7 linked regions of the Homo sapiens genome follow. Changing the gene in region 2 together with the main gene of any one other region gives a genetic interaction. Each region holds a gene or a part of one and is shown on either strand. Other genes may lie near its edges.

Evidence for each region.
Region 1: changes in FDPS (region 2) and MED23 together harm fitness more than expected from each alone (negative genetic interaction), as found in Homo sapiens cells (one large-scale study listed by BioGRID).
Region 3: changes in FDPS (region 2) and TRNAU1AP together harm fitness more than expected from each alone (negative genetic interaction), as found in Homo sapiens cells (one large-scale study listed by BioGRID).
Region 4: changes in FDPS (region 2) and UBA2 together harm fitness more than expected from each alone (negative genetic interaction), as found in Homo sapiens cells (one large-scale study listed by BioGRID).
Region 5: changes in FDPS (region 2) and BDP1 together harm fitness more than expected from each alone (negative genetic interaction), as found in Homo sapiens cells (one large-scale study listed by BioGRID).
Region 6: changes in FDPS (region 2) and EMC1 together harm fitness more than expected from each alone (negative genetic interaction), as found in Homo sapiens cells (one large-scale study listed by BioGRID).
Region 7: changes in FDPS (region 2) and TIMELESS together harm fitness more than expected from each alone (negative genetic interaction), as found in Homo sapiens cells (one large-scale study listed by BioGRID).

Annotation. Positions count from the first base shown.
Region 1 is NC_000006.12:131,590,243-131,593,742, reverse strand, and holds part of MED23 (mediator of RNA polymerase II transcription subunit 23), read left to right. Parts: intron 1-571; coding exon 572-737; intron 738-1,282; coding exon 1,283-1,355; intron 1,356-2,215; coding exon 2,216-2,430; intron 2,431-3,300; coding exon 3,301-3,421; intron 3,422-3,500. UniProt on the Homo sapiens protein: Required for transcriptional activation subsequent to the assembly of the pre-initiation complex. Component of the Mediator complex, a coactivator involved in the regulated transcription of nearly all RNA polymerase II-dependent genes.
Region 2 is NC_000001.11:155,307,494-155,311,665, forward strand, and holds the start of FDPS (farnesyl pyrophosphate synthase), read left to right. Parts: upstream 1-1,372; 5' UTR 1,373-1,472; exon of another isoform or gene 1,473-1,583; intron 1,584-2,295; 5' UTR 2,296-2,296; coding exon 2,297-2,472; intron 2,473-2,549; coding exon 2,550-2,712; intron 2,713-4,172. UniProt on the Homo sapiens protein: Key enzyme in isoprenoid biosynthesis which catalyzes the formation of farnesyl diphosphate (FPP), a precursor for several classes of essential metabolites including sterols, dolichols, carotenoids, and ubiquinones.
Region 3 is NC_000001.11:28,566,585-28,570,084, forward strand, and holds part of TRNAU1AP (tRNA selenocysteine 1-associated protein 1), read left to right. Parts: intron 1-709; coding exon 710-829; intron 830-3,500. UniProt on the Homo sapiens protein: Involved in the early steps of selenocysteine biosynthesis and tRNA(Sec) charging to the later steps resulting in the cotranslational incorporation of selenocysteine into selenoproteins. Stabilizes the SECISBP2, EEFSEC and tRNA(Sec) complex.
Region 4 is NC_000019.10:34,455,881-34,459,380, reverse strand, and holds part of UBA2 (SUMO-activating enzyme subunit 2), read right to left. Parts: intron 613-3,500; coding exon 457-612; intron 1-456. UniProt on the Homo sapiens protein: The heterodimer acts as an E1 ligase for SUMO1, SUMO2, SUMO3, and probably SUMO4. It mediates ATP-dependent activation of SUMO proteins followed by formation of a thioester bond between a SUMO protein and a conserved active site cysteine residue on UBA2/SAE2.
Region 5 is NC_000005.10:71,565,986-71,568,320, forward strand, and holds the end of BDP1 (transcription factor TFIIIB component B'' homolog), read left to right. Parts: 3' UTR 1-1,835; downstream 1,836-2,335. UniProt on the Homo sapiens protein: General activator of RNA polymerase III transcription. Requires for transcription from all three types of polymerase III promoters. Requires for transcription of genes with internal promoter elements and with promoter elements upstream of the initiation site.
Region 6 is NC_000001.11:19,215,160-19,217,842, forward strand, and holds the end of EMC1 (ER membrane protein complex subunit 1 isoform 1 precursor), read right to left. Parts: 3' UTR 501-2,683; downstream 1-500. UniProt on the Homo sapiens protein: Part of the endoplasmic reticulum membrane protein complex (EMC) that enables the energy-independent insertion into endoplasmic reticulum membranes of newly synthesized membrane proteins.
Region 7 is NC_000012.12:56,428,927-56,432,426, reverse strand, and holds part of TIMELESS (protein timeless homolog), read left to right. Parts: coding exon 1-58; intron 59-822; coding exon 823-956; intron 957-1,458; coding exon 1,459-1,546; intron 1,547-2,145; coding exon 2,146-2,322; intron 2,323-3,326; coding exon 3,327-3,500. UniProt on the Homo sapiens protein: Plays an important role in the control of DNA replication, maintenance of replication fork stability, maintenance of genome stability throughout normal DNA replication, DNA repair and in the regulation of the circadian clock.

The sequences.
Region 1 (3,500 bases), on a different chromosome or scaffold from region 2:
AAAAAAATTAATGTTTGTAGTAAATAATAAATGATAAAATATATTTTTCTTTATTGAAAAGGTATATTTTAGTGAAAATATACTTGGATGTTTATTTCTTCATTTTGATTTTATATTTTCAGTTATTAGCACTCTATACTTAATGTCTATAACCATACCACTATTTTACTAGGTAAGAAATTCTACATAAATGAGCATGACTTATTTTCCTACACAAAGGAATTTATTTTCTGAAGCAAAAGAATGACTCATTAGAAAATAATTTTCATATTAATGTCTTATAACTATTAAAAGAAATAGGCTCATGAAACCTAGGTAAACCTTGGTTGCATCTGTGGCTATTATATGTCATATTTATAAGAACCCACCTGAAAGACCAACCATTTATACCTGTGGTTAATCAAATGGTTGCTTTTAATACATTTCAATCATGTCAAACTCATTTGTATTTGGTTTGCATTTGCCTCTTAATCTCTCTAAGCGTAGACAAATCACTTCTTGGCAGCTCATAATCAGATAAATTGACAATCAGATGAGATAGTCCAATTGTTATTGCTTTAACTGTGTGCACCGATGGCTGGCAAATCTCCTGGTCCCTTTCCAAACTGTGACTGGAGATTCAATGAGTTTCCCAACCCAGCTGCCCATGCTCTCCATGTTACTTGTGTGGAGCTCATGGCCTTGGCAGTTTCAGGCAAAGAAGTTGGGAATGCCCTTCTAAATGTTGTCCTAAAAAGGTATGTATTCTGGTTCATGCAGTAAGATTTGTTGTTTATTTGTAAATAGAATGGTATTCTATTTCAAACTTTTAAGACAAACCTGTTGCCGCAAGGCTGATGCACATTGGATGATGACTGTTTTCTGGTTCCAGATCTTGTCTTTGTGATATAGGAGTTATGGAATGAGCCCTGGACAGGATCCTAAGATCCGGGTTTGTTCCTACTTCTACTCATTAATAGCAGTTTGACATTTAATATAGGAATAATGTTAACTTGTCACTTAAAACAAGATTCTCTTCATCTTGTTTTCAAGATTTCAAGATTCTTTTAAAAATTAGCATGAAGTATGGGATAATGATTGGGGAGGAAGTATTTTTAAAAAGCCTTCTTGAGTTTTTATGCATATTACATTTTTATTCAATAAAAAATTCCCCATTGTTTTATTGAAATGGATTAGTTGTCGATCCTCTGAATTAGACATATTCTTTAAAAATAAGATCCGTTGTCAGCCATCTAAAATGTTTTTATAAATTCATACTTACATTCTTTTTTGCCGGTTGCAGTCAGCCTTTAGTGCCAAGAGAGAACATTACAGCATGGATGAATGCAATTGGTTTGATCATCACTGCCCTACCAGTGAGTTAATAATTGTGATTTGTACTTAGTGATGAAATACAGCCAGCTGTTCCATGTCAGCAAAAAGAAAAAGATGCATATAGGATGCCCTTGTACGGGACGTCATGCAAATTAATGAAGTATTTTATGTTTTTAAAGTTTTTTCATATTATTACTGCTTTAAAAATCTACAGTGACTAGTTTTTGCTTTTCTGTATTAGATCTAAATATATCTATGTGACTTACGGGTCTCTGCATTTTCTGGTACCACCTTACCTATCCAACTTTAGTTTTTACATAATAGCTTGATCTACTCTTGGCCACTTAACGTGTTGTATATCTACAGCCTTTGTTCCTTCAGATAGTGCTTAAGACATGTTTTAGGTACTTCTGAATGTGAGGGAATAAGACATTTTTCTTATTCCAGAAGCTTCTTCTTTCCATCACCTTCTCTAAAGCCTATTCATTCTTTGCTAGCTTAGAGCCTCCTTTCTCAGTGAATGAAGCCTTCCCTGACTTTTCCAGCTCACATGAAGACTCCTTTCTCTGACCTCCACACATATTTTTTTAAAGTTTATTATTTTTAAATAAGTAATAAAGCTATAGATTTATTGTTTGATAAATTAATTGATTTACTGCATAGTGTATATCAGGTACCTAAATGAGCTGGACAGATACATGTATGGAGCCCCTTAACTCACAGTTACTTCTCCCAGGTTGTTACTGACTTAATTTGACCAGTTACAAAGCCACCCAGCTGTATTGTGCAGAAGCTGGAAAAATAGAAAACTTTAAAGAATGAGAAAACACTATTACTTTAGACTTTGGGGTGGAATGCTGGATAAGTGATATTTTTCACTAGCTTTCCTCCGATTTTAAAGGAGCCATATTGGATTGTTCTTCATGATCGAATTGTGAGTGTCATCAGCAGCCCCAGCTTGACGTCTGAAACAGAGTGGGTTGGCTATCCATTCCGCCTCTTTGATTTCACTGCCTGTCATCAGTCCTACTCTGAGATGAGTTGTAGCTATACGTTAGCTCTTGCACATGCTGTGTGGCACCATTCTAGCATCGGACAACTTTCTCTCATTCCAAAGTAAGTATAATAATTTCTTAAAGAAATTTGACGTAGGCTGGGTGCGGTGGTTCATGCCTGTAATCCCAGCACTTTGGGAGGCCGAGGTGGGCAGATCACAAGGTCAGGCGATTGAGACCATCCTGGCCAACATTGTGAAACCCCATCTCTACTAAAAATACAAAAATTAGCTGGGCATGTGGTGTGTGCCTGTAACCCCAGCTACTCGGGAGGCTAAGGCAGGAGAATCACTTGAACCAGGGAGCTGGAAATTGCAGTGAACCAAGATCGCGCCACTGCACTCCAGCCTGGTGACAGAGTGAGACTCCATCTGAAAAAAAAAAAAAAATTGTATTTCATTTTGTTCTAATCTCATTAACAGATGAGGTATATACTTCATTCATTAGAACAACTTGCGGCTGGGCGCGGTGACTCATGCCTGTAATCCCAGCAATTTGGGAGGCCGAGATGGGTGGATCACAAGGTCAGGAGATTGAGACCATCCTGGCCAACATGGTGAAACCCCGTCTCTACTAAAAATAAAAGAATTAGCCAGGCGTGGTGGTGTGCACCTGTAATCCCAGCTAGTCAGCAGGAGAATCACTTGAACCCAGGAGGCGGAGGTTGCAGTGAGCCAAGATCACGCCACTGCACTCCAGCCCAGGCAACAGTGTGAGACTCCGTCTCAAAAAAATAAATAAATAAAAATAATCAAGTGAAAGTAATAGCCAGTGAGAGATGTGAGATTAATTAGAAATATTATTGTTACCAAATTAAAAGGAACTTTAAAAAATTATATTTTATTGTAATACTTTGTATATACTGTATGAACAAAATTCAAACAATTTAAATAATTTCAAGTCACAGGAGATTTTTATCTTCAAATTTTAGGTTTCTTACTGAAGTACTTCTTCCTATAGTGAAGACCGAATTCCAGTTGCTTTATGTATACCATCTTGTTGGACCATTTTTACAAAGATTTCAGCAAGAGAGAACTCGTTGTATGATAGAGGTAAAATATAATCTGGGTTTCCTGTGACATGATTAAATTCTGAAGTATCTATTTAAGTTTCTTTACCAGTGTTATTGAA
Region 2 (4,172 bases):
TTGCTGATAAAACAGATTGCAGTAAAGAAACTGGCCAAAACCTACCAAAACCAAGATGGCAACAAGAGTGACCTCTGGTGGTCTTCAACGCTATACTCCTACCACATGCTGTGTCGACATCAGGGAGTTAACTGTATATGGTCTACAAAGCAGAGGCATGAATAATCCAACCCTTGTTTAGCTTATAATCAATAAATAACTGCCTGGGCCAAGTGGCTCGTACTTGTAATCCCAGCACTTTCAGAGGTCGAGGTGGCTGGATCACTTGAGGTCAGGAGTTCGAGACCAGGCTGGCCAATCTGGAGAAACCCCCTCTCTACTAAAAACACAAAAATTAGCTGGGCATGCTGGCAGGCACCTGTAATCCAGGAGAATCACTTGAACCCGGGAAGCGAGGTTGCAGCCTCCCACGTAGCTGGAATTAAGGCGCGGACCAGCACACCTGGGTAATTTTTGTATTTTTAGTAGAGAAGGGGTTTTGCCATGTTGACCAGGCTGGTCTCAGATTCCTGACCGCAGGTGATCCGCCCAAAGTGCTGGAATTACAAGTGTGAGACTCATCTTTTTTTTTTTTTTTTTTTGAGACGGAGTCTTGCTCTGTCTCCCCAGCTAGAGTGCAGTGGTTCGCTGGATCTCAGCTCACTGCAACCTCTGCCTTACGAGTTCAAGCGATTCTCCCGCCTCAGCCCTCCTGAGTGGCTGGGATTACAGGCGCGCGCCACCACGCCCGACTAATTTTTTTTTTTTGTATTTTTAGTAGAGACGGGGTTTCACCACATTGGTCAGGCTGGTCTCGAACTCCTGACCTCATGATCCACCCGCCTCGGCCTCCCAAAGTGCTGGGATTACAGGCGTGAGCCACCGTGCCCGGCCCAAGACTCATCTTTCTTAAGCCCTTAAAGCACTTTGCACACATTACCTCATGGTATTACCACCCTCATTCAACAGATGAGGAAAGCTAGTTTCAAGCAAGTTCACTGAGGATCAGAGACGTTAAATGATTTGCCTAAAGTTAGAGAACTAATAAGTGAGAAAGCTAGTCCTGCTGCGTTTTACTAACGTGCCAATCAGCTGCCCAGGAAGATAATGAAAACTTGAGTAAGACAGGCAGCCAAAGCCACAGCGGGGACGTTCCCAGCCTGGCTCGCTTCCGGCACTGACGCCTCCAGCCGCGACCTCTAGACTTCAGCCCTTCCATTGGTCGTCCGTCACAGTGCCACAGTGCGCCATGCTCACACGACGGCCAGCAGCCAATCAGCGCGGCTCATCTTCGCCCAGCCAGGACACGCAGGATCGCGTTATCTGTCCCTCCCGCGGGCACATTGGGAGTTGTAGTCTAATTATATATTTCCGCCCTTAGTGTGGGGAGAGCGGGAACTACTCGACCCACAGAGCCGATCGCGGAGCGGATTCTGCTTTTAGGAGTACCCGCCAACAAGCGGGACCGAGCAGGAATCCGTATCTGGGAACAGGTGAGAGAGGATGTGTGCTGGGCCTTGGAGGAAGGGGGCCGAGACCGGGCCTTACTTCTGTAACGATACTGTGAGGCATCGGAAGGCCAGCCTGTTGTGTCCGTTTTGAAGGTCGGTGGGCTAGACTGGCTGGCCTTCTAGGGGTGTGGAGACTTCCCAACTCTGCCCTTGTGCTTTCCTGGAATCCCCAATATGCCCGGACCCCGGTTTACTCCTTTGCTGCGAGCCCTTCTCTCCCGTCCAGAGTTGCTCCGAGCCTATCTGCTCAGTCCTAGCGATTCCTGTGGGGCTTGGGACGCGCGGTTCAAGCACCCCGGACCATATGGATGCAGCACCCATGGGTTCTCGCTCCAATGCTTCTTTCCTCCTTGGGGCGTAACTCAGACCCTGGGCACCCCTCTCCACTGCCCAGGGGAGACCTGGGTTCTAGATTTGGCTCTGCCTCTACTATCTTCCTACCTCCTAGAGCCTCAGTTTGGCTTGTGTAAAATAGGATGACTTAAGGGTCCTTTCAGCCCCTAATCCTGGGGTACTTTACTCTGTACCGCCTCCTTACCCAGCCTTGTGCACGCCATCTTGAAGGCACTGAGTTCTAGCCTGTTTATTGTAAGTGGTGATTAGTTGGGTCTCAGTCACCCAGCCATACTTTTTTGTTCCCTGCGTATCCTTCCTGTAATTGTCCCCAAGCACATTCCACAAGAGGGAGGGGCACTCTGGGCTAAGGCTGGGGTGGGAGTTATCTGGGGAGCTGCCACCATGCCTCTGCCTTTGGTGCTTGCCCCTGCAGGGAGTGCTTAGTGCCCCCTCCCTATGCCACTCCCAGGATGCCCCTGTCCCGCTGGTTGAGATCTGTGGGGGTCTTCCTGCTGCCAGCCCCCTACTGGGCACCCCGGGAGAGGTGGCTGGGTTCCCTACGGCGGCCCTCCCTGGTGCACGGGTACCCAGTCCTGGCCTGGCACAGTGCCCGCTGCTGGTGCCAAGCGTGGACAGAGGAACCTCGGTGAGTGTGGTTGGGGTGAGGGGCCTTGGGGAGGGGAGCAGCTGATCAGGTTTCTGACTTGTTTTTCTTCTACTTAGAGCCCTTTGCTCCTCCCTCAGAATGAACGGAGACCAGAATTCAGATGTTTATGCCCAAGAAAAGCAGGATTTCGTTCAGCACTTCTCCCAGATCGTTAGGGTGCTGACTGAGGATGAGATGGGGCACCCAGAGATAGGAGATGCTATTGCCCGGCTCAAGGAGGTGAGGGATTCATGACTTGGGGGAGTAAGGCTTTGGTTCAGTTGCTCTGTACCTGTGTGGCATTCACCTGTGGCTTATGGGGGACTTTTGACAGATGTGAGAGAAAGCTTTTTTTTTTTTTTTGAGACAGAGCCTTGCTCTGTCACCTGGGCTGGAGTGCGATGGTGTGATCTCGGCTTGCTGCAACCTCCACCTCCTGGGTTCAAGTGATTCTCCTGCCTCAGCCTTCTGAGTAGCTGGGATTACAGGTGCGTGCCACCACATCCAGCAAACTTTTGTATTTTTAATAGAGACGGGGTTTCACTGTGTTGACCAGGCTGGTCTCGAACTCCTGACCTCAGGTGATCCACCCACCTCGGCCTCCCAAAGTGCTGGGATTACAGGTGTGAGCCACCGCGCCTGGCCGAGAAAGCTTTTACCTGAGGGACTCGAGTCTGCTCTGGAGAGGTTGGGGCCTGGGCAAGTATACTTACTCAGTCCATCAACCGGACTTTTGGCTCTGATGGAAGGTGGGTCATCCAAACTGCTTTGCTTTGGGGGTGGAGGCCTTGAACCTGGCAAGTCTTAGATTTTGTGTCCTGAAATCAGAAGCTGTTAGGTTGGCAGAGACCGGGGAAGAAGGCAGTCTGATATTGTCCTATCTCCCTGGGGCCTGAGTGAAGTTATTGTATCATTAGAAACCCCTATTCTAGAACATGAACTATTGCTGTGATACTTGCCAATTTTTTTCCTGTTGATTCTGGAGTATCTATTAAAATTCTTTTTATAAATGCTGTCTATCTCATATATCTCAGGGGAATGAAGGGAAAGGGGGGCTTTGCCTATACTGGAATGGGGATTAAAAGAGTCTTGGCCCGGCATGGTGGCTCACGCCTGTAATCCCAGGACTTTGGGAGGCTGAGGTGGGGGGGATCATGAGGTCAGGAGTTCGAGACCAGCCTGGTCAACATGGTGAAACCCCCGTCTCTACTAAAAATACAAAAATTAGCTGGGCGTGGTGGCGCCCACATGTAGTCCCAGCTACTCAGGAGGCTGAGGCAGGAGAATCACTTGAACCTGGGAGGCGGAGGTTGCAGTGAGCCGTGATTGTGCCACTGCACTCCAGCCTGAGTGACATAGCGAGATGAAGTCTTCCCTGTTAGTTAGGTCTGATTGATAGCCAGGCAGCAGAAGGCAAAGTGAGATGCAAGAGGAGACACTACTGGAGGAGTGGGAGATGGATCCCACAGCGTGGGTCCCCTGTAAGCTGTCTTCTGGCTGACTTTGGAGAGGCTTTGTTTTAATATAATGAAGGAGGCTTTTCATTTGCAGGAGGGTTGAACCCTGGTAGGCAGAGGTGGCTGGAAAAGTAGGGATGGGTTGTGAAGGGGAAGTCTAGGAGAGGTGGGGATGGGGAAGGAAACTGGGGAGGGACCTGAACAAGCCAGTCATCCCTATAGCATGTACTGAGTTTTCCGTGG
Region 3 (3,500 bases), about 130 Mb from region 2:
TACTAAAAAAATAAAATACAAAAAATCAGCTGGGCATGGTGGTGGGTGCCTGTAGTCCCAGCTACTCTGGAGGCTGAGGCAGAAGAATGGCGTGAACATGGGAGGCGGAGCTTGCAGTGAGCCGAGATCACGCCATTGCACTCCAGCCTGGGCAACAAGAGTGAAACTCCATCTCAAAAAAAAAAAAAAAAAGAGAGAGAAAATGCTCTGCGCAGTGCTAGGGAAATAAATATTTATTAAATGTTAGCTTGCATTAATTTATTCCTCTGCTAGAATTTGAGCTCAGGAGAGCAGGAACGTTGTCTTTCTGTGACTGCTGCATCCTGTGCGTAGCACAGTGCCTGGCATACAGGGCAGACTGTAAATATTTGCTGAATTTTCTTCTATGAGTTACTTTCCAGCAGGGTGTCGGGGAAGCTCCTATTTGGGAATGTTCCCTAGGGGTGAAGGTGTCGAGGAGGATGGTGAACTGAATGTGGGAATTCCTGCAGATATTAGAATTGTTTGTACTTGGATCTTGACACTATGTGGACACCTGTTGATGGGACTCTCCTTTCTTCCTCTAGTTTAATGGACTCTCTCTTTCTCTTCTCAGCCTCTTTTCCTTTCTACATTCCTGCCCACCTTCTTATCCTTACTTCTTTTTCATGTGTCCATTCTTAGACTTTAATCACATTTGTGATCTAAATTGTATATTTTTTTCATGCAGGGGTTATGGTTTTGTGAAATTCACAGATGAACTGGAACAGAAGCGAGCCCTGACGGAGTGCCAGGGAGCAGTGGGACTGGGGTCTAAGCCTGTGCGGCTGAGCGTGGCAATCCCTAAAGCGTGAGTCCTGCAGGGAAGGTAGAGAGACTCTAGACTCCCCTCCAGACACTCCTCTTTTGTTTGCTGAGAATCAGGGCATCCATACGCTGGATGGGAGGCTGAAGGGGATCCAATTCAAGTCACAAGTACTGAATGCCTGCTGTTTGCCAGGCTGTGGGTGCTGGGGTTGAACTAGCCCCACTCCTGCAGAAACTTAGAGTTGGGGATAGAGTATGATTTGGAAAGGCTGATGTATTCAGACATTACTGGTGACAGCATTGGAAAAGCTGTTTGGCTGTCCATACCTGATGTCCCTGTTCTTTGCCCAGTAGTCCCATTGTTGGGAACTTATTCATAGAATTAATAAGATTTGAATAAAGGGGAAAAAATTACTTCCATTTTTAGCCTTATTTATATTAATGAAACTACAGCCCTCCTATGAGTGTTCCATGCTGTGGGAATGGATAAGAATTAGTATTCCAGACACTTGGCCGGGCGCAGTGGCTCACACCTGTAACCCCAGGACTTTGGGAGGCTGAGGTGGGCGGATCACCTGAGGTCAGTAGTTCGAGACCAGCCTGGCCAACATGGCAAAACCTCATCTCTACTAAAAATACAAAAATTAGCCAGTCATGGTGGTGCATGCCTGTAGTCCCAACAACTCGGGAGGCTGAGGCAGGAGAATCGCTTGAACCTGGGTGGCGGAGGTTGCAGTGAGCCGAGATGGCATCAGTGCACTCTGGCCTGGGCAACGGAGCAAGACTCCGTCTCAAATAAAAAAGAAAAATTTTCCAGACACTCTACAGAACATTATATACTTCACTATCACACCTGTCATGCTAGGTAGAAAATCTTCTTCCCTTACAACTCCAAACTTTTCTCTGAATGGGATTTTTTGTTTGTTTGTTTTTTCCCTGAGTCAGGATCTCAAAGTCACCCAGGCTGGAGATCATGTCTCACTGCAGCCTCGACCTCCCCAGGCTCGGGATCCTCCCATCTCAGCCTCCTGATTAGCTGGTACTACAGGTGCACACCACCATGCTAGGCAAATTTTGTGTTTTTTGTAGAGATAGGGTCTTGCTTTGTTGCCCAGGCTGGTTTCGAATTCCTGGGCTCAAGCAATCTGCCCACCTTGGCCTACAAAAGTGTTGGGATTACAGGCATAAGCCATTGTGCCTGGCCAGATCTTTTATCCTTTAGCCAAATTAATGATTTTCAACTGGAGTGATTTTGCCTCCCAGAGGACATTGACAACATCTGGAGACATTTTTGGTTATCACAACCAAGGATGTACTAATGGCACCTAGTGGGTATCGGCCAAGGATACTGTTAAACATCATGCAATTCATCGGACAGCCACCCACCCCTCCACGTCAATAGATCCAGGGCTGAGAAACTCTACCCTAAGAGTAGTTGAACTATTTTTTTTTTTTTTTTGAGATGGTGTCTTGCTCTTTTGCCCATGCTGGAATGCAGTGGCGTGATCTTGACTCACTTCAGCTTCCACCTCCCAGGTTCAAGCGATTCTCCTGCCTCAGCCTCCCGAGTAGCTGGGACTACAGGCATGTGCCACCAAGCCCAGCTAATTTTTGTATTTTTAGTAGAGACAGGGTTTCACATGTTGATCAGGCTGGTCTTGAACTTCTGACCTCAGGTGATCTGCCTGCCTTGGCCTCTCAAAGTGCTGGGATTACAGGCGTGAGCCACTGCGCCCAGCCAAATAGCCATGTTTTTGAAAGCAATGATTTAGGGGTTCTTTATGGTTTAACTGTGTTTAATACATTGAAGATCAGGCTTAGTGACTTCTCCCAAAAATGTTATTTGTTGTAAATAAATTATTATATAAAAACATTAAATTAGCTGGGCTTGGTGTACTCCTCTAGTCCCAGCTGCTCTGGTGGCTGAAGTGGGAGAATTGATTGAGCCTAGGAGTTCAAGGTTACAATGAGCTATGATAACTCCACTGCACTCTAGCCCAGGCAACAGAGTGAGACCGTGTCTCTTAAAAAACAAAATAGGCTGGGCGTGGTGGCTCATGCCTGTAATCCCAGCACTTTGGGAGGCCGAGGTGGGTGGATCACAAGGTCAGGAGATCGAGACCATCCTTGCTAACATGGTGAAACCCCGTCTCTACTAAAAATACAAAAAATTAGCCAGGTGTGGTGGCGGGCACCTGTAATCCCAGCTACTCAGAGAGGCTGAGACCGGAGAATGGCATGAACCCAGGAGGCAGAGCTTGCAGTGAGCCAAGATTGTGCCACTGCACTCCAGCCTGGGTGACAGTGTGAGACTCCATCTCAAAAAAAAAAAAAGGCCAGGTGCAGTGGCTCACGCCTGTAATCCCAGCACTTTGGGAGGCCGAGGCGGGCAGATCACAAGGTCAGGAGATTGAGACCATCCTGGCTAACATGGTGAAACCCCGTCTCTACTAAAAATACCAAAAAAAAAAAAAAAAAAAATTAGCCGGGCGTGCTGGTGGGCGCCTATAGTCCCAGCTACTCGGGAGACTGAGGCAGGAGAATGGCATGAACCCAGGAGGCGGAGGTTGCAGTGAGCCGAGATCGCGCCACTGCACTCCAGCCTGGGCGACAGAGCAAGACTCTCTCAAAACAACAACAAAAAAAACGAAAACAAAAGGCGGGGTGCTGTGGCTCACGCCTGTAATCCCAACACTTTGGGAGGCTGAGTTGGG
Region 4 (3,500 bases), on a different chromosome or scaffold from region 2:
AAAACTCTGCAAGTTACTTATACCCTTTAATACAAAGCTGGTAACTGGGGCTTTGCTCTACTGGAAATGCAAACTTTGCACTGCATGCAAATACTTATCTGCTCACTGCCACAGTGAGGACCATTCAAGGATACCTGTTATTTGTCAAAAAATACAGAATTTACCCACTGCCTGGGAAGCAAAGAGCAAAGAAGTCCTCTGCTTGCTGTGATACTGTGCCACCACTGTGCTGCAGATTCCAGTCAAATACTCCTACTCCATTCTGGGAATGTGAGGCACTTATTCTGGAACCACAGACAGAAAAGCCTGCAGGAATCCAGAAGGCAAAATAACCCAGGAAATCACAGCCACACATCTCTGCAGTTGGACCTTTTCAGAATCAGCAGCTAGTGTTTGTTTGTCATCACAGTAATACTGTAAAAGCAAAAGGAAAAGAGACCCAGGCCTTGCACTGACCTTGTCTTGTAAGGTGAGAACAGTCACTTTATGGACATTCAGCCGCACAGTCACCTCTGGCTTGCTGGCACATACATAACAATTGGGGTTGGGAGGATCCAGTGCACAAGGCACAAGAAGCTTCTTTCTTGGGTTTGGTTGTTTATTCAAAAAAATCTTTGGAGGAGAAATAACAGGCAGAAATCGGAAACGTGCTGTAATTTTATACGCCATACAATCTAAAATCTCGTTTACCAGATATCCAATAAAAAATGACTTAAAAATTCCCGTCCAGATGGCAAAATGGATCAGGAAAATCATGACCTTTTTAGGAACCTGGTTTTTCAACCTTCTTTTTTTTTTTTTTTTTTTTTTTTTTTTTTTTTTGAGACGGAGTCTTGCTGTCGCCCAGGCTGGAGTGCAGTGGCGCAATCTCGGCTCACTGCAGGCTCCGCCCCCTGGGGTTCACGCCATTCTCCTGCCTCAGCCTCCCGAGTAGCTGGGACTACAGGCGCCCGCCACCTCGCCCGGCTAATTTTTTGTATTTTTTTTTTAGTAGAGACGGGGTTTCACCGTGTTAGCCAGGATGGTCTCGATCTCCTGACCTCGTGATCCGCCCGCCTCGGCCTCCCAAAGTGCTGGGATTACAGGCGTGAGCCACCGCGCCCGGCCTCAACCTTCTTTTCTAATCAGCTAAAGGCTAGGCTAGCTAGGCTTGCTGAAAAGACATCTCCTTGTATTATATAAGACTCCGCGTTCTTCTGCAACCTGATTTGGCAAGAGTAAGGGCACAGGCATGTTAATCTGTGGTGCCATCATTGTATCAGCAGCTGGTGTCCCTCCCTGAGGCTATTCTTATCAAGCAAGCAATCTCCTGACAAGACCAACACATTAATTTCTCCAGTTAACGATAGTGCCTTTCACAGTTGTCTAGAATCAACATCACTGCCTTCCCAAATTTTCTGATTAGAATAACATTTATATAATGAGGGAAAAAAATGTATTTCTGGCAGTATATGTACCTATTTACCATTTCTCTAATACTAAACAAAAAAATAATTAAGAACCAAGGCAAATATACAAATTACACTGAAATTAAGAAAAGCTCCAAGCTCCTGCTTCTACTAAAGTTTAGAAAACACTAGCAAGATCCAACAGAAACAACAAATGTCAGAAGACAAGAAGCTGAGACACAAACCTTTATCTTGTGACTACAATGTAGTGTTGAGTCTGCTAAGAGGAATGAATTCTAAAGGAGTACTCTACGGATTCCCCTGAGAATACAGAACTAAATCCCTCAAGAGACACTAAAGCCGTCCTCTGTAAAATAGCTTCTCCGTACAATGAATACTGGTAGGTGGAAGGGCTAGAAGCAAACTGCCCAGGCCAAGCAGGCTACAGAGGGAGAAAGATTTGTTTGATTTTGGGCTTCACCGGGAAGGTAAGTGTGCTAAGGGAAACTGACAATAATAAAAGCAATTGCTACCACTATTAATACCTGGGCTAACATTAATCCAGGCTGGAATTCATTTGCAAATGTAAAAAAATGAAATCCAGATATATTACTATATTTTTTCTTGAGGCAGAGTTTCGCTCTTGTTGCCAGGCTGGAGTGCAATGGCGCGATCTCGGCTTAATGCAACTTCCGCCTCCCAGGTTCAAGTGATTCTCCTGCCTCAGCCTCCTGAGTAGCTGGGATTACAAACATGCACCACCATGCCCAGCTAATTTTATATATATATATATATATATATATATATATATATTTTTTTTTTTTTTAGTAGAGACCAGGTTTCTCCACGTTAGTCAGGCTAGTCTCGAACTTCCAATCTCAGGTGATCTGCCTGCCTCGGCCTCCCAAAGAGCTGGGATTACACGTGTGAGCCATCGTGCCCGGCCAGATATATTACTATTAATAGTCCAAGAGTGGCATGGAGCTAAGCAGGCAAAGAAACCGGAAGGATGTGATGGGAAATAACAGACATTTTAATAAGTTCAGTAATTAGTACTGTTGGTGAGCTCAAAGGGATACTACAGCTTCAGGCTGCTATAAAAAATTTTTTTTAAATAATTTAAAAACTGGGTATCGGCCAGGAACGGTGGCTCACTCCTGTAATTCTAGCACTTTGGGAGGCCAAGGTGGGCAGATCACCTGAGGTCAGGAGTTCATGACCAGCCTGGCTAACATGGTAAAACCCTGTCTCTCCTAAAACTACAAAAATTAGCCAGGCGTGGTGGCACCCGCCTGTAATCCCAGCTACTGGGGAGGCTGAGGCAGGAGAATCACTTCTACTTGGGAGGTGGAGGTTGCAGTGAGCTGAGATCGCGCCACTGCACTCTAGCCTGGGTGACAGAGCAAGACTCCATCTCAAAAAAAAGATACCAAAAAATAAAGTTCTTAGAAATTAAAAATATAACATATACAATAAAAGTTTAAATAGAAAACTAAATCAAGATGGCAGACTGGGCAATTTGATTCTGTTCCTTCAAACTGAAATTTCATGAAAATAAAATATTTTAAGAGTGCATCGAGGCTGGGCGCAATAGCTCACGCCTGAAATCCCAGTACTCTGGGAGGCTGAGAAGGGCGGATCACTTCAGGCCAGGAGTTTGAGACCAATCTGGGCAACAGGTGAAACACCGTCTCTACTAATAATACAAAAATTAGCCAGGTGTGGTGGCATGTGCCAGTAATCCCAGCTACTTGAGAGGCTGAGGCAGGAGAATCGCTAGAACCCAGCAGGTGGAGGTTGCAGTGAGCCGAGATCACATCACTGTACTCCACTGTACTCCAGCCTGGGTGAGAGCAAGATTCCACCTCAAAAAAAAAAAAAAAAAAGAAAAAGAAAAGGAAAAAAAGAGCGCATCGGGCCAAGTGCAGTGGCTCACACCTGTAATCCCAGCACTTTGGGGGGCCAAGGTGGGAGGACTGCTTGAGCCCAGGAGTTCAGGACCAACCCGGACAACATAGCAAGACCCCATCAGTTTAAAAAAAAAAGGCCGGGCGCAGTGGCTCATGCCTGTATGCCTGTAATCCCAGCACTTTGGGAGGCCGAGGTGGGCGG
Region 5 (2,335 bases), on a different chromosome or scaffold from region 2:
AAGGCATTAAATTTATGTTTGTCTCCTTTTTCTGTTTAATTTTAAAGATATTTAAAATGATATAACTAAAAATGTTTAGCTGGTGTATATGTTTTGAATACCTTTTTCCCCTCAGTTTAGTATATTGACTTTGTACTGTAAATTTTTCTGCTTTTCTTGGATAATCTCAGGATTTTCATGAGGATAGGGGGAACTCAACTTTATTTATGAGACAAAATTTCCATACAAAGCTCAATCTCCTTTATACACCCACAGACATAATATTAGTTTTTAAAAAGCCAATTTCTTCATAGTTTTTTCCCATTAAATTCTCAAGGAACACTTGGATCTTTAAGCACGGAACATAATCATGATGTTAAAAACAGAGAAAATAAGGCTTTATAAAGTTAATGATTATCATCAGTATGAATTTAAGGTTTGTTTTAATTTCAAGATTTGATTTTTTATACGTGTAATTCTATTATCTACCCAAGCAGATCTGTAGTGGTTCCAATTAGACTTCTCAAACAGCAAATTTATCCTGATTTTATTTGAAAAGCCTCTTGGATTGATAGTATAGTAGCTCAGGCATTGGAAACTTTCTGCAAACTGTTTTGGGTTTGCAGGCCAGATGGTCTCTGTGGCAGCTACTCAGCTCTGCAATTTCAGTGTGAAAGAAGCCATAGACAGTACTTGAATGAAGGACTGTGGCTGGATTGGCCTTTTAGTTTGACCCCCTACATTAGGCCCCAAATTTTCTTACCCTGAGGTGCTGATATCTGTATGGATGAGTTATTTGTCACTAAAGTTATGAGTTGTGCCTAAAAGTTAAAACTGTTGACTGTATTATGTAATGATCAGTATTTCAGTTGGGAAGATATTTTAGAGTCTAGATAATTATGTTTGTATATTGAAAAAATGGTGGCCAGTTTTTAAGTTCCTTAATAGAAGAGAATTATGTCTCAGCACATATAACAGTAATGCTAATTTATTGAAACTACTGCTGTTAGAGCACTTCTTATTCATTGTCTTTTAGTGAAATTTATGGCGTAACACTTTGTCAGAGAGGAGGCTATATAATTCGGAGCGGAAATTGTCTATAAGTAGGCATTTATTTCATGATTGATATGTCACAGAAATCATGGTAGTAAATCACATTGCTATTTGAATACCCTGTTTTTGTAAGTTTTTAAAACTCATATTCTGAAAAGATTTCATTCTCTTAGTGTTAGCTTGGGAGTTAGATTGCCATGATTAAACTATTATTTATCCTTGTGTAATATTAGTTTTTAACTTTAACATCTGTTTCTTTTTAATCTATAATGAGCTAGTTTTATGGAAAATGGAATTTCTTACTATATAAAGAATACAGAGACTCATTGTATTAGAGAATCAAGTCAGCCAGCTAAAGTATCCTACTGTTAAATCCTTAAACCTAATTTTGGAAAAGAGAAAGTTAATCAATGTATTTACCTTACATGTTGGAAAGAACTATGTTAGGTCTGATTCATGTGAAGAAGATGTTGCAAAGGATTTATTTCACAAATTTTAAAGGAGATATGAGTAAAAGTTTTTATCTTTTCTTGACTTTTTCTCCTGAACACTTATGTCTTAGCAAGTGGTCAACATGAGGATTTGAACGCCTAATTGTTGGTAAATGGTTGAGGCATGACAAAAATATTAATATCCACTGTTTACCATCATGTTATTTGAAACAAAAGTGACCATGTATACTATCTTGCTTGAAGAAGTCTTTGACAGAAAAAGCAATATCATGTCATTTATAAATTTTCTTGTTCTAAAGAAAGCAGTTATATATATATATAAATTATGTAAATAAAAGTTATTTTATATCATTTCTGTTGTGTCCTTTTAAGATGACTAAATAAAGAATTGGCTGGGTATCGTGGCTTACACCTGTAATCCCAGCACTTTCGGAGGCCGAGGTGGGAGGATTGCTTGAGCCCAGGAGTTCAAGACCAGCCTGGGCAACATAATGAGACCTCATCTCTACAAAAAAATTAAAAATCAGCCAACTGTGGTGGTGTGTGCTTTTGGTCCCAGTTACTCAGGAGGCTGGGATGAGAGGTTCGCTTGAGCCCAGGAGGAGGTTGAGGCTGCAGTGAGCTGTGATTGCCCCACCACACTCCAGCCTGGATGACAGAAGAAGACCCTGTCTTTGTGGGGAGGAGACAAATTTTTGACAGGTGTGCATGTCGTTATTTCAAAGCTGTAGGAGTCTGCAATGTGATTGTCCTAATAGTATTTGGAAGAGACTCCACACAGCATCTCTGTTTGCTGCAGCATCGCATCCTGAATCTGCTGGAGAGCCCTGTCTTACATTGGGTTTCACTAA
Region 6 (2,683 bases), about 140 Mb from region 2:
TGTGGTAGCACACTCCTGGAGTCCCAGCTACTCGGAAGGCTGAGGCAGGAGGATTTCTTGAACCCGGGAGGTGGAAACTGCAGTGAGTCGAGATCAAGGCACTGCACTCCAGCCTGGGAGACAGAATGAGACTCTGTCTCAAAAAAAGGAAAAAAATCCTTTACTAAGTCACCGAAGTCTTAGAAATTTGGGAAACTGAGGACAAAGTTCCTAAGGGTTCTGGAGAAGAAGGTACAGCCATTTGGGGAACTATTTGTCAAGGAGCAACTTCATGTCTGGGACAATAGGTAATTCAGAAAACAGTCCCTAAGAGACACAATATCTGAAATAATAAAGGGGTGTGGTATATCACTCAGGAAGTTACGTGGTAAGCAGCCAGGATGGTTGAAGGTCCTGAGTAGCTGAAACCAATAGGGAAGACTTTATGGAGGAGTTCAGATTTGAGACAAGCCAGATTTTAAGCAGGGAAGAAAACATTCCAAGTAAAGAAAACAGAATGGTTTCATGATTTAAAAGCAATTTTTTCATTTTATTTATTTTTGAGACAGGGTCTCACTGTGTTGCCCAGACTGGAGTGCAGAGGCATGATCTCGGCTTACTGCAGCCTTTGCCTCCTGGGTTCGATTCTCCTGCCTCAGCCTCCCAAGTAGCTGGGATTACAGGCATGCACCACCACACCTGGCTAAATTTTTTTATTTTTTTGGTAGAGATGGGGTTTCAGGTTTCACCATGTTGGCCAGGCTGGTCTTAAACTCCTGACCTCAAATGATCTGCCTGCCTTGGCCTCCCAAAGTGCTGGGATTATAGGCTTGAGCCACCATGCCTCGCCTAAAAGCAAAATTTTAAATAATTAGGAATCAGGAAATGAGTCTTGGGATGATTCTGATGATACTTTGTGTAATAGGCTCTTTAAAAGTATGACAATTTATGGGCCAGGTGCAGTAGCTCATGCCTGTAATCCCGGCACTTTGGGAGGCTAAGGAGGGAGGATCACTTCAGCCCAGGTGTTCGAGGCTGCAGTGAGCTATGACTGTGCCACTGCTCTCCAGCCTGGGTGACAGAGACCCTGCCTCCAAAAAAAAAGCAATTTATAAAGGCAGTGAAATTACAATTATGAAATTTTCAAATTGAAAGATGCCTTACGGAGCACATAACATGTACCCACACACAAATAATGAAACTAGTTCAGATTAGATAGCTTACATTAAAGTCTCTAACACTTAAATTAGGAATTGAGTATTTTTTCTATCAGACTTTGTTCCAGAAACTATTTCAGTCATCTTTATGAATACATGATATTCAAGATACATTAGCTGAGCCTTTATAAAAACATCTCATGTACCCCATAAGTATATGTACCTAATATGTACCCACAAAAAATTTAAATAAAAAACTTTAAAAGATCCATTAGTTGAAAAAACAAGTAACAGAATTAAATAGCATCATCTCATTTAAGAAAACACTGTATACAAGAACAAACACTAGACTACCAGTGCTCATATACGTAATTAATGAATACTAAAACAAACTAGTTTTTGTTTTTGTTTTTGAGCCAGGGTCTCACTCTGTTGCCCAGGCTGGAATGCAGTAGCATGTTCATGGCTCACTGCAGCCTCGACCTCCCAGGCTCAAGTGATCCTCCTACCTCAGCCTCCTGAGTAGCTAGGACCACAGGCACATGCCACCAGGCCCGGCTAATTTTTTTTTATTTTTTGTAGATAGAGTCTTGCTATGTTGCCCAGGCTGGTCTGGAACTCCTGGGCTCAAGAGATCCTCCACTATGGCCTCCCAAAGTGCTGGGATTATAGGCATGAGCCATCACGCCCAGCCAAATCTTTTTACGTGAAACACCATGGGGCCCCAAAATTAACCTAATTAATGAAGACAGGAGAAGAGGTAAGTCAAGGAATACACACAAAAAACAAGGAATGACAAGAAAGCAAATAGATCAGAGAATTGAGAGAGGAAACATAGTCTCAGCAGCCATTAGTGGAGACTGAGTGTAGCTGCTCAGAACCGAATGCTGCTTTAAGATTAAGGAAAGTTGAGAACTAAGAAAAGATTTAAATTGGACTGTGGCATTAGCATTAACTATTTTAAGCACTTGGCCAAGCTCGGTGGCTCACACCTGTAATCCCAGCACTTTGGGAGGCCAAGGCCAGCAGATCACTTGAGGCCAGGAGTTCGAGACCAGCCTGGCCAACACAATGAAACCCCGTCTCTACTAAAAATACAAAAAATTAGCTGAGCGTGGTGGCACATGCCTATAGTCCCAGCTGCTTGTGAGGTGGAGGTTGCCGTGAGCCAAGATCGTGCCACTGCACTCCAGCCTGGGCAACAGAGTGAGATTCTGTCTCAAAAAAAAAAAAAGCACCTGCTTTGAGGTAACTTTGATTACAGCTGAAATACAGGGAATTTTACTAAAGGACAAATACCTTCCCTCCCAGTAGCTTGTTTCAGATTCTGGCACACTGGTAAATAAAAACTAGAATCTTGCAGGCTAACCTTGCACATATGTATGTAAGACAGTCAGAATTCCAGCCAGGCTTTCTCAAAACTAGGGCAGAATTTTTTTTAACTTGTACTTAACTCTCTTCTCCCAGGTTATGTTAAAATATGCCTTGGGTCAGGATGATAGATGCCTGTTTTTTTCTGGAGATTCTTAGACATTCAGTCACTCAAT
Region 7 (3,500 bases), on a different chromosome or scaffold from region 2:
TGAGGAGCAATGGAGCCTACATGTGCTAGAGATTGTCTCCCTTATGTTTCGTGACCAGGTGAGACCCTGGCCTATTGCCCGAGTCCCCTCCGCCCATGTACTTTTCTGCTGTACAGCCAGAATTGCTCTTGTGATAATGGCTGCATTATCTGGGGAAGGCAGGCGACAGCAGGAGTAGCCATGTCTTGAGTTCAGTAGTACCCCCTTATTCATGGTTTTCTTTCCTTGATTTCAGTTACTCACAGTCAACCATGGTCTGAAAATATTAAGTGGAAAATTTCAGAAATAAACATTTTAGAAGTTTTAAACTTGTACATTGTTCTGAGTAGTGTGATGAAATCTTTTGTCCCTGTTTGTCCTAAACAAGATGTGAATCATCCCTCTGCCCAGCATATCCACAGTGTATACCCGCCTGTTAGTCATGTACTAGCCATCTTAGTTATCAAATTGAAAAAACATAATAGAATATGTGTATGTGCGTATATATATATGTATACATGTTCTGTTTTCTGATAACTATATATATAGCACATATATACATTCTATAAAACATAGAACGTACATGTTCTATGTATATGTGTATACACATACAAATATATATATGTATATATGAATATATACATATATATATTTCAGTACTGTCTGCAGTTTCAGGCATCCAGTGGGTGTCTTAGAACATTTCCCCCTCAGATAAGGGAGAACGACAGCACAATGCCCCATTAATGGGGTTCTATTTTGTTCACTCTTTGCATCCCCAGTAGGCGTGAACTCAGGATAAGGAATGACTGTCCTCCTGATTCTTCCCTCTTTGTTCCAATCTAGAACCCCGAGCAGCTGGCGGGAGTAGGGCAGGGACGCTTAGCTCAGGAGCGGAGTGCAGATTTTGCAGAACTGGAGGTGTTGCGCCAGCGAGAGATGGCAGAAAAGAAGACTCGAGCCCTCCAGCGAGGCAACAGGTGAGTGACAGAGAGGCAGGTTCTTTTTCCTACATCATGGAATGCTGAGGGCATAGAAGGCAAATTCTAAGGTGGGGTGATTGAACAACATTTTAGTGTTTTTTTTTTTTTTTTTTGAGACAGAATTTTGCTCTTGTCGCCCAGGCTGGAGTGCACTGGCACGATCTCTGCTCACTGCAACCTCTGTCTCCTGGGTTCAAGCGATTCTCCTGCCTCAGCCTCCCCAGTAGCTGGGACTACAGGCGCATGCCACCATGCCAGGCTAATTTTTGTATTTTTAGTAGAGACAGGGTTTCACCATGTTGGCCAGGCTGGTCTCAAACTCCCGACCTCAGGTGATCCGCCTGCCTCAGCCTCCCAAAGTGCTGGGATTATAGGCGTGAGCCACCGTGCCCGACCAACATTTTGTAGTTTTAACTTGCTCCAATGTGCCGATGATAGAGAATGGAGATAAAGTTTCCAGAGAACTGAAAAATCACCTTGGACCTTTTTGTTTCTGCAGGCATTCTCGATTTGGGGGCTCCTATATTGTCCAGGGGTTGAAATCCATTGGGGAGAGGGACCTCATCTTTCACAAAGGCCTTCACAACGTGAGTATTCTTACATCTGGAGTGGGAACATAGTGGAGTTGCATAGCTTAAGCAGGGTAATCATCTTAAGAGTTCTTGGCTGTGCCTGGTGGCTCACACTTGTGGTCCCAGCACTTTGGGAGGCTGAGGCAGGAGGATTGCTTGAGCCCAGAAGTTCAAGATCAGACTGGGCAACATGGCAAGACCCTGTCTCTAAAAAAAAAATTAAATTAAAGGTTGGGTACAATGGCTCATGCCTGTAATCTTAACACTTTGAGAAGCTAAGGAAGGAGAATTGCTTGAGCCCAGGAGTTCGAGACCAGCCTGGGCAACATGGCAAAACCCTGTCCCTACAACAAGTGAAAAATACTAACTGAGCATGGTGGCACCCGCCTGTGGTCCTGACTACTCGGGAGGCTGAGGTGGGAGGATTCCTTGAGCCCAGGAGTTCAAGGCTCCAGTGTGCTATGATTGCATCATTACACTCCAGCCTGGGTGACAGAGCAAGTTCTTGTCTCAAAAGAAAAACAAAAATTAGTTTCTTCTGAGAAAATTGACGAGAGCTGCAAGGGGAAAGTGGTATTTAGGAGTAATTCTAATCCCCCAACCGACACACCCAGCTACGAAACTACAGTTCAGATTTGGGAAAGCAGCCGAAAAAGGTGCCTAAACGTCGCCAGGCCGCCCGAGAGCTGTCCATTCAGCGCCGTTCTGCCCTCAATGTGAGGCTCTTCCTCAGAGACTTCTGCTCTGAGTTCCTGGAGAACTGTTACAACCGGCTCATGGGATCAGTAAAGGTGAGAACCTGTGAAGGATATGGAGATAATCAGGAATGGAATAGACAGGTGATGATGCAGCTGTTGGTGGGTAAGAAGTGGGGAGGAGCTCGGGGAGGCTGCCCCTGGAATGTGGACTCGTAGGTGGGAAGGATATACAGTTAGGATGTCCCTGAGAGATAGTGAAAATGCCAGGAACGAGTGGGCTCCTGGCATGACAAAAGAGGCTCTGGAAAAATTGCCTCAGAGGGAGAGGAAAGGGAGAACAGGAGAGAGTTGGAAATTGTGGATCCTAGAGTATTATAGCGGTGTCCCGGCGTGGTGGCTCACACCTGTAATCCCAGCGCTTTGAGAGGCTGAGGCAGTGGATCACTTGAGGTCAGGAGTTCAAGACCAACCTGGCCAATATGGTGAAACCGTATCTCTACTAAAAAAAAAAATACAAAAAAAAAAAAAAATTAGCCGGCATGGTGGTGTGCATTTGTAGTCCCAGTTACTCAGGAGCCTGAGGCAGGATAATCACTTGAACCTGGGAGGCAGAGGTTGCAGTGAGCCGAGATCAGACCAGTGCACTCCAGCCTCATCATGACAGTGCAAGACTGTCAAAAAAAAAAAAAAAAAAAAAAAAGACCAGGCGCAGTGGCTCACGCCTGTAATACCAGCACTTTGGGAGTCCAAGGCAGGTGGATCACCTGAGGTCAGGAGTTTGAGACCAGCCTGCAACATGGTGAAACCCCATCTCTACTGAAAATACAAAAAATTAACTGGGCGTGGTGGCGGGCACCTATAATCCCAGCTACCCAGGAGGCTGAGGCAGGAGAATCGCTTGAACCCAGGAGGTGGAAGTTGCGGTGAGCCGAGATCATGCCATTGCACTCCAGCCTGGGCAATAGAGTGAGACTCCGCCTCAAAAAAAAAAAAATTATGACGGTGTCCAGCATCCATTCCATCATCATAGGACAGGAAGGAAGAAGTTGGAAGCCCTGGAGTCATGGTGATCTTTTTTTTTCTTTTTTAAATGTCAGGATCACCTGCTTCGGGAGAAAGCTCAGCAGCATGATGAGACCTATTATATGTGGGCCTTGGCTTTCTTCATGGCCTTCAACCGAGCTGCCTCCTTCCGGCCAGGCCTGGTTTCTGAGACCCTCAGTGTCCGTACCTTCCACTTCATTGAGCAGAACCTCACCAACTACTATGAG